2 separate regions of the Homo sapiens genome follow, and region 1 is linked to region 2. Evidence: fine-mapped expression QTL. Tissue or cell type: whole blood. Region 2 holds a variant in brackets; the other region holds the start of a gene. All regions are shown on one strand. Distances are between the middles of the regions.

Evidence for each region. PIP is the estimated chance that this variant, and not a neighbour inherited with it, causes the effect.
Region 1: GPN3 starts here. The variant in region 2 is fine-mapped to the expression of GPN3 in whole blood (INTERVAL, PIP above 0.99).

The regions. Positions count from the first base shown.
Region 1 is chr12:110,466,565-110,470,746 of GRCh38, reverse strand. It overlaps GPN3 (GPN-loop GTPase 3), which reads left to right and starts at 2,490. Exons shown (of 8, transcript NM_016301.4): 1 at 2,490-2,591. The coding sequence starts at 2,544. It overlaps FAM216A (family with sequence similarity 216 member A), which reads right to left and starts at 1,902. Exons shown (of 7, transcript NM_013300.3): 1 at 1,729-1,902. The coding sequence starts at 1,871. It overlaps LOC124903016 (a long non-coding RNA gene), which reads left to right. Exons shown (of 3, transcript XR_007063459.1): 2 at 1-108; 3 at 296-458. RefSeq lists enhancers at 1,159-1,328, 2,249-2,378 and a silencer at 1,529-1,838.
Region 2 is chr12:110,489,002-110,493,147 of GRCh38, reverse strand. FAM216A (family with sequence similarity 216 member A) reads right to left here. Exons shown (of 7, transcript NM_013300.3): 7 at 2,763-3,129. The coding sequence ends at 3,011. VPS29 (VPS29 retromer complex component) reads left to right here. Exons shown (of 4, transcript NM_016226.5): 3 at 1-152; 4 at 1,026-2,065. The coding sequence ends at 1,143. LOC124903016 (a long non-coding RNA gene) reads left to right here and starts at 3,855. Exons shown (of 3, transcript XR_007063459.1): 1 at 3,855-4,146. The variant G/A (reference allele first, on the strand shown) is at 1,692.

The DNA of each region.
Region 1 (4,182 bases), 22 kb after region 2:
ACAACCTCTTTGTGCCTGTTTTGTCATCCATAAAGTGGGGATCATAATAGAACCTTCCAGGATTACAGGCTCATGCCCATCTCTACTAAAAATACAAAAATTAGCCAGGTACGTGGTGGCGCACACCTGTAGTCCCAGCTACTTGGGAGGCTGAGGCAGGAGAATTGCTTGAACACAGGAGGCGGAGGTTGCAGTTAGCTGAGATCGTGACACTGCACTCCAGCCTGGGTGACAGAGGGAGACTCTGTCTCAATAAAAAAAAAAAAAAAAATTCACGTATCTCCTGATACACCAGGATCCTGCAGTCGGCCAAGGACTGTGAAGAACAGAAAAGAAACCCAAGACTCCATCCCATCTTTAAGAAGTCTTCAGTAGCACCAGAGACAAAAAGGACGGCCATGCGGGCGGATCACGAGGTCAGGAGATCGAGACCATCCTGGCTAACACGGTGAAGCCCCGTCTCTACTAAAAATACAAAAAAGTAGCCGGGCGTGGTGGCAGGCGCTTGTAATCCCAGCTACTCCAGAGGCTGAGGGAGGAGAATGGCGTGAACCCGGGAGGCGGAGCTTGCAGTGAGCTGAGATGGCACCACTGCACTCCAGCCTGGGCAACAGAACGAGACTCTGTCTCAAAAAAAAAAAAACAAAAAGGATGGCCATGGGTGCAACAGGGGCCCTGACTGCGGGTTGTACTGAACGGCAAACATATCGCAGTTCTTGCTTTTAGGGAATAAAGTAGGGAGAGGAAGAGGAGGTAGAGTCTCCAGCAGTGACTTCAACAGCTCGCTGTCTTCACTATCTAGGAAATAGGTGTAAAAACCTGCTCAAAACGAAATAGATTTGTGAAAAAAGGAACTTCAGTGTGAAGAAAATGTCAAGATCAAGGCACCTCGGATATTCAGTCATTGGTCTCATTGGCGATTAGAAATCCTCGTTTGAGGTCGGGCGCAATGGTTCACCCCGTAATCCCAGCAATTTGGGAGGCCGAGGCGGGCGGCTCACTTGAGGTCAGGGGTTCGACACAAGCCTAGCCAACATGGTGAAACCACCTCTCTACTAAAAATACAAAAATTAGCCGGGCGTGGTGGCAGGCGCCTGTAATCCCAGCTACTCGGGAGGCTGAGGCAGGAGAATCACTTGAACCTGGGAGGCTGAGGTTGCAGTGAGCTGAGATCGCACCACCGCATTCCAGCCTAGGCAACAGAGCGAGACTGTCTCGCTCTCAAAAAACAAGAAAGAAAAGAAAAAAAAAGAAAAAGAAATCCCCGTTTGACAGGAAGGTGGCTCATGTCACTAGAGGGAAGGAACTGGTTTATGGGCCTGGATGCCCCCAGTTGAACCGGGGGACATCTTCCTCCTCTGTCCCTCCCGCCTCGCCTTTCGGTGGACACACAGTCCTGTGCCAGACAGCAAACGTCCCAGCAGGGCTCGCAGCGCCCCCTCGGGGCAGAGAGATGCACGCGGGCGACTGTCGCAGTCACCTCGTGGCCACTGCACCAAACGCTCCTCCGAAGCTTCCCTCAGAGACCCTCCCTCAACCGCGAGGCAGTCCTCCCCTCTGCCCTCTGTCCACAACAAAACTGCTCCCCGCCTCTCACTTGAGGGCACCGGGGCCAGCCCCCGAGACGAGAGGTCGGCCGCAGCCCTCCTCCACGGGGCTCACGACCCGGGGGCCTCACGACCCGGGGGCCCCATGCTGCCACCCTTACCCCGGGGCCCCCAACCTCACCCGCCGCCGCCACCCTCGGTCCCGGCCACAGCGGGCGGCTCTGCAGAAGAGCTACGCTCCGTCCAGTCGGACCCCGGACCCTGGCCGGGCATCTCCGCGGCGCCGAGACCGCGAGCCGTGTGCGGGAGCAGCTGTCCCAGCATCCCTCCCCCGACAGCACGCGTGCGTCAGGCTGCTGGTATTCCGGAGAGGCGGCTCGGATGCTGGCTTCTCGCCCCTCCGAAGCCGTTCGGACACTGCCCGAACAGCTTCGGGAGAGCGGGGCGGGCAGATCCGCGACCCCGGAGTTACGGTGGGGGAGGGGCAGGAGCGCTGCGGTCGCTGAGCGTTTGCACGTTTGCACCTCTCTGTGGAAGCAGTGCGTCACAGGAGGGAAATATACATGCTCCCCAAAACAAGAGGTGCCTTCCACTTCAGTATTCCAGATCCTCAGCACATTTGCAAATCGCGAGGGTCACCATACAGGTCAAACGTCTGCACGCAAACCACGGACCGAAGCACGTGGCGCAAGGATGCGGAGCTTTATCTGTTGTCCGTTATTACTCAGGTATCCAAGCTTAGACAGCATCCCAACGGCCGATTTCCATCAACTACTTTTGCGCACGCGCAAATCCTCTCCCTCGCCCCTCCCCTTTTTTCTCAGGACGCGTTTCTCACGGGATTTGGCCCGCGGGCTGCCCCGTAGTAGGAGGTGTGGTAGAACTGGAGGCGTAGAAAGAATGTGGATTGCGATTGGTTCGCACTTCACTTTCCCGGAGCTCAGTGGGCGTCGCGCGAAGGCTAAGGGAGTGTGGCGGGCGGCTCCGGGAGCCAACATGCCTCGGTATGCGCAGCTGGTCATGGGCCCCGCGGGCAGCGGGAAGGTGAGGATCTGCGGGGACAAGGAGAGAAAAGTAGGAGTTCGTGGAAGGCGGGAGATTGGGTCCTGAGGGAGTGAGCCGGCGGGTGTGTGTACTGGGAACCCTGAGACCCCACGCAACTCATTTCTGCTGTCTGGCTTCACGTTCTTTTTTGTTGTTGTTTTGAAAGGGAAATAATGGTAGTTGTTAATATTTATTGTATACTTAAGCCCCAGGCAGCAGATGAAACGCCTCGCTTATTTCTACAACAACCCTGTGAGAGAGATCTCATTTTTCTCATTTTACAGAAAACGAGATACAGAAAGGTTAATTAAGTTCTTTGCCCCGCAAAAAAATATAAATCCAGTTTTGTCTCAACTCCAGAATCCGGCCCTGTCTCGCTCCCAGGAGGGTAAAGTGGGGTCTCATTAATTACTGTTTCTCAGAACTTGGGACATGGACTTTTGGTATTTAAGGTGCTTTTAGGTGGTAGGTGGTACATGGACCCCACATTAAGGAGCATCAGATAATGTGTTAGGGAAATTGTTCCCTTTTCATTTCTCTTTCAGTTCTCAACTTCGCATTTAGGAGAAGTTGTGCTCGGTGCTAGTGTGTATCTTCAGCACTTCTTTAATCCCCAGGTCTTTTCAGAGAGCAGTTCTTAGTCTCAGAGCTTTTAATAGGCACCTGTATTTAGCTAAAAATAGAACATTTAAAGATTTTATATAATTTTATGTCTAATTTCACGTTATGTCAAATATAAGTGGTTTTCAGTTTACAGTAGGGATAAAATTTTTTCTTGTAAACAAATATTAAGGGAATGTTAGGAACATTCAAATACAGTGAGAATGGTGAAGATATGGATCAAATAACATATGTGTGGGAAACATAGCCAGGCGTGGTGGCTCACGTCTGTAATCCTATCACTTTGGGAGATGGAGGTGGACGGATCGCCTGAGCCCAGGAGTTTGGGACCAGCCTTGGCAACACGGCGAAACTCTGTCTCTACAAAAAAATGCAAAAATTAGCCAGGCCTGGTGGCAGGTACCTCTAGTCCCAGCTTCTCGGGAAGCTGAAGTGGGAGGATTACCTGAACCCAGGAGGTTGAGGCTGTGGTGAGTGGTGATCGTGCCACTGCACTCCAGCCTGGGTGACAGAGGTACTGTCGCAAAAAAAAAAAAGAAGAAGTGTGGAAACACTAGAGTCTGTGGAGGTGTTGTGTGGCCTCAGTCTTTAACAAACACATTGTTCTAAGCTGTTGACTTATTCTGGGTAAAAACATGTACATGTAACTAAGATACCTATGGCCTTTAACTTACCCAGAGTCTGTAGTCTTTTGGGGAAGACAAATAGATGACCTGTCAATTAAGATACAGTGTGATGTGGCCAGGTGTGGTGGCTTAAGCCTGTAATCCTCGCACTTTGGGAGGCTGAGGCCAGCAGATCACTTGAGCCCAGGAGTTCAGGGTCAGCCTGGGCACCATGGTGAAGCCCTGTCTCTACCAAAAATACAAAAATTAGCTGGGCATGGTGGCGAGAGCCTATAGTCCCACCTACTCGGGGGGCTAAGGCTGGAGAATCGCTTGAGCCTGGGTCAAAGCTGCAGTGAGCTATG
Region 2 (4,146 bases):
GGAGATATGGCCAGCTTAGCCCTGTTGCAGAGGCAATTTGATGTGGACATTCTTATCTCGGGACACACACACAAATTTGAAGCATTTGAGCATGAAAATAAATTCTACATTAATCCAGGTTCTGCCACTGGGGCATATAATGCCTTGGAAACGTGAGTAGTATAGAATTTGGGAATTTGGGGGCTTTAGTAAAATAATTGCATGTGTGACATTTCGTAAAAGAAATGTGGCTGGGCACAGTGGCTCATGCCTGTAATACCAGCACTTCGGGAGACCAGGGCAGGTTGCTTGAGCCCAGGAGTTTGAGACCAGCCTAGACAATATGGTGAGACCCTGTCTCTACAAAAAAATTTTAAAAATTAGCTGGGTGTGGTGGTGCATGCCTGTGATCCCAGCTACACAGGAGGCTGAGGTGGGATGATCACTTGAGCCTAGGAGGTTGAGACTGCAGTGAGCCACGTTTGAGGCTCTGTACTCCAGCCAGGGTGACAGAAGGAGACTCAATAAATAAATAAATAAATAAATAAATAAATAAATAAATAAATAAAATAAAAATAAATGTGACTTTTTTTTTTTTTGAGACAGAGTCTTGCTCTGTCACCTAGGCTGGAGTGTAGTGTTGCAATCTTGGCTCACTGCAACCTCTGTCTCCCGGGTTCAAGTGATTCTTGTGCCTCAGTCTCCCAAGTAGCCGGGATTATAGGTACCCGCCACCACGCCTGGCTAATTCTTGTATTTTTAGTAGAGATGGGGTTTCACCATGTTAGCCAGGCTGGTATTGAACTCCTGACCTCAGGTGATCCACCCACCTCAGCCTCCCAAAGTGCTGGGATTACAGGCGTAAGCCACTGTGCCCAGCCACATGTGACCATTTAAATAAATCTAGCCATTTTGGCAATCTTTTGGTAACTGTTCATGTGATATGTAACAGATTTCTCTGAATCCAAATAGTCATCTTAAATTGAAATTTATAGTGCTGCTGCTTTGTGCTACAAAACACTGACATTATTTATTTTTTCTTCTAGAAACATTATTCCATCATTTGTGTTGATGGATATCCAGGCTTCTACAGTGGTCACCTATGTGTATCAGCTAATTGGAGATGATGTGAAAGTAGAACGAATCGAATACAAAAAACCTTAAAGCCAGGCCTGTCTTGATGATTTTTGGTTTTTTTTCATTGTCCTGTTGAAATCAAGTAATTAAACATTTAAGAGCCACAAAATTGTATCACTTTTATAATATTTTGCAGTAAAATATAATACCATCTTCTCTGTTAATACATAATTGCTCCAAGCTTCCTGTAAACTATAAGAATATATTTAGTTTACAGTATATGGATTCTATGAAAAAATGTCCACAACACAGTAATTGGTCACTTGTTAAGAAAAATTTATCCTTGTAAGTATCTTCAAAGTTGATATTTGGAACTTTATTCCAAAAGTAGTGCATGTGGAGAAAGAATCTAGACTTTCTTGTATACATTTTTCTCTTCTCCAGTAATAAACAATTACCTTTCATTTATACTTTGATAACCTGTATTTAATTTAAAAAAAAACATAAAAATGAGGAACCAAGTGAAACTACGGATATAAATATTAAAGTGGACGAGATGACCTTTCAGAGCTCTTCTCTTACATTGTGTCATAATGTTGGACTCAGATTTTATTTGCTAAATAATATACCATGCC[G/A]ACATTAACAGTGATTCTTCAAACTGTTGCTATTTCCATTTTTCAAGGTTTAATAAAAGTTTTAAAAATACAAGTTTAGGGGCCGGGCACAGTGGCTCACACCCTAATCCCAACACTTTGGGAGGCTGAGGCAGGTGGATCACCTGAGGTCAGGAGTTCAAGACCAGCCTGGCCAACATGGTGAAACCCTGTCTGTACTAAAAATACAAAATTAGCCAGCATGGTGCTACATGCCTGTATTCCCAGCTACTCGGGAGGCTGAGGCAGTAGAATCACTTGAATCCTGGAGTTGGAGGTTGCAGTGAGCCGAGATCACACCATTGCACTCCAGCCTGGTCAACAAGAGCATAACTCCGTCTCAAAAAAAAACAAAACAAAACAAAAAAAAAACAAATTTAGCAAGGAAGCATACTAGAGTAATATATAACGTAAAGAATCCTCTTGTTAGTGTAACTACTCCCAACCTAATCTAGTCCGAGAGTCCCAAGTTATTTATGTGGTAATTTCATAAGATAGGGAAAATGTGTATTTACATTTTAAAGTTGTATTCAAATAGCAAATATTTATTGATCACCTACTTTGCAAGTCAGAGCATCATCTCTGTCAAATGCTATTCTGTATCTGGATATTTCCAAGCTTCCCTTAGCCCAATCAAAAAAATACTTGTAGGATATTCTTTTTTTTTTGAGACGGAGTCTCGCTCTGTTGCCAGGCTGGAGTGCAGTGGTGTGATCTCGGTTCACTGCAACCTCCGCCTCCCAGGTTCAAGCAATTCTAATTCTCCTGCCTCAATCTCCCAAGTAGCTGGGACTATAGGCACACACCAACATGCCCAGCTAATTTTTGTATTTTCAGTAGAGACGGGGGTTTCACCATGTTGGTCAGGCTGGTCTCGAACTCGTGACCTCATGATCCACCCGCCTCGGCCTCCCAAAGTGCTGGGATTACAGGCATGAGCCACTGCGCCTGGCCCTTGTAGGATATTCTAATATTGCTGTTTTAGGACTTACTATGAACACAGAAAGAAGAAATACGATGCATTTGTCAGATTTAAAGAAAAGTAATTCAATATTGAATGCAAGAAAAGTTTTAATTGTATCTAGCTAGAAGTACAAGTATATGTTACATGTAAATTTTCTTACATAACTATCATTGGTACATGGAACTACATCAGACCAATTACATTGTTTTAAGTTTCTGAACAAACCAAAATTACTTAATGATTTAATAAATAACAATACCATCCTAAACATACAGGACACAACTCACAACCCCTTACCCTCACCTTTGGCACGAATTCAATACACGAGACAAGACTGTCAAGTTAACATCAGATGTTCTCCCTGTTCTTCAATTGACATTGATTGCATAAAATTATTTAGTAAATCTTCTTCCTTTTTTTCTTCACTCATGTGTGATTCAGAATCATCTGAAGAAACTGAAGGAAAAATAAGAATTTACAATTGTCTGTTTTGGAAATAAAGCTCTAAGTACAACTTTCAAAATGACCTGGCTTATTAATAAGCCTGTAGTAAAGACAAATTGCCTGCAATTTTCAAGGCTCTTAGTCACCTCATCCTTCCCCCAAGTTTCTTACTCTTTAAGATACACAATACTGTATTCTAGCCAAGTTACTGTACAGCAAATTCTCTTGTTACTAAGTCCTGTTTTACCATTGATTTTCAAAATCTTTCAGTTGGGGGAAATTAAAGTGGTCAGTTACATCTTCAGAATCTCTGCATTTTCATTTAGTTCCTTCTCATCTCTTCTATTGGGGACCACAGGGACTCCCCCCCCTACAGTTTCCGCTAACTGTACCTTTTGGAACCTGACTTACCCCTTCTCTCCTGCCCTTTCCCTCATTTCTTGGATAGGCATGGTACGATATTTACAGCAAAGCTGGCTAACACTGTCATACAGTGATGGGATATCAATTCAGAAGGCCTAACTTCCCTACTTCAGTTTTTTTTTTTTTTGGAGACTAGAGTGCAGTGGCGCGATCTTGGCTCACTGTAAGCTCCGCCTCCCAGGTTCACGCCATTCTCCTGCCTCAGCCTCCCGAGTAGCTGGGATTACAGGCATGTGCCACCACGCCCGGCTGATTTTGTATTTTTAGTAGAGACAGGGTTTCTCCATGTTGGTCAGGCTGCTCTCGAACTCCTGACCTCAGGTGATCTGCCAGCCTTGGCCTCCCAAAGTGCTGAGATTACAGGCATGAGCCACTGCGCCTGGCCAACTTCCCTACTTCTTACCCACCTCCCTACTTCACTATGCTGATAACTAGGAAACTACTTAACATGATTTAACATTATCAGTTCTGAGGAATACTTCTGATCATTCGGTCTGTCTTCCCTTTTTCATTTTGCAGTATTTTGTTCTTGTGGTAGAAGGATCCTTTATGCTGATCCTTCCAAAGTCTGGATTTGTCTGAGTTGCAGCTGTAAAATTTTGATAA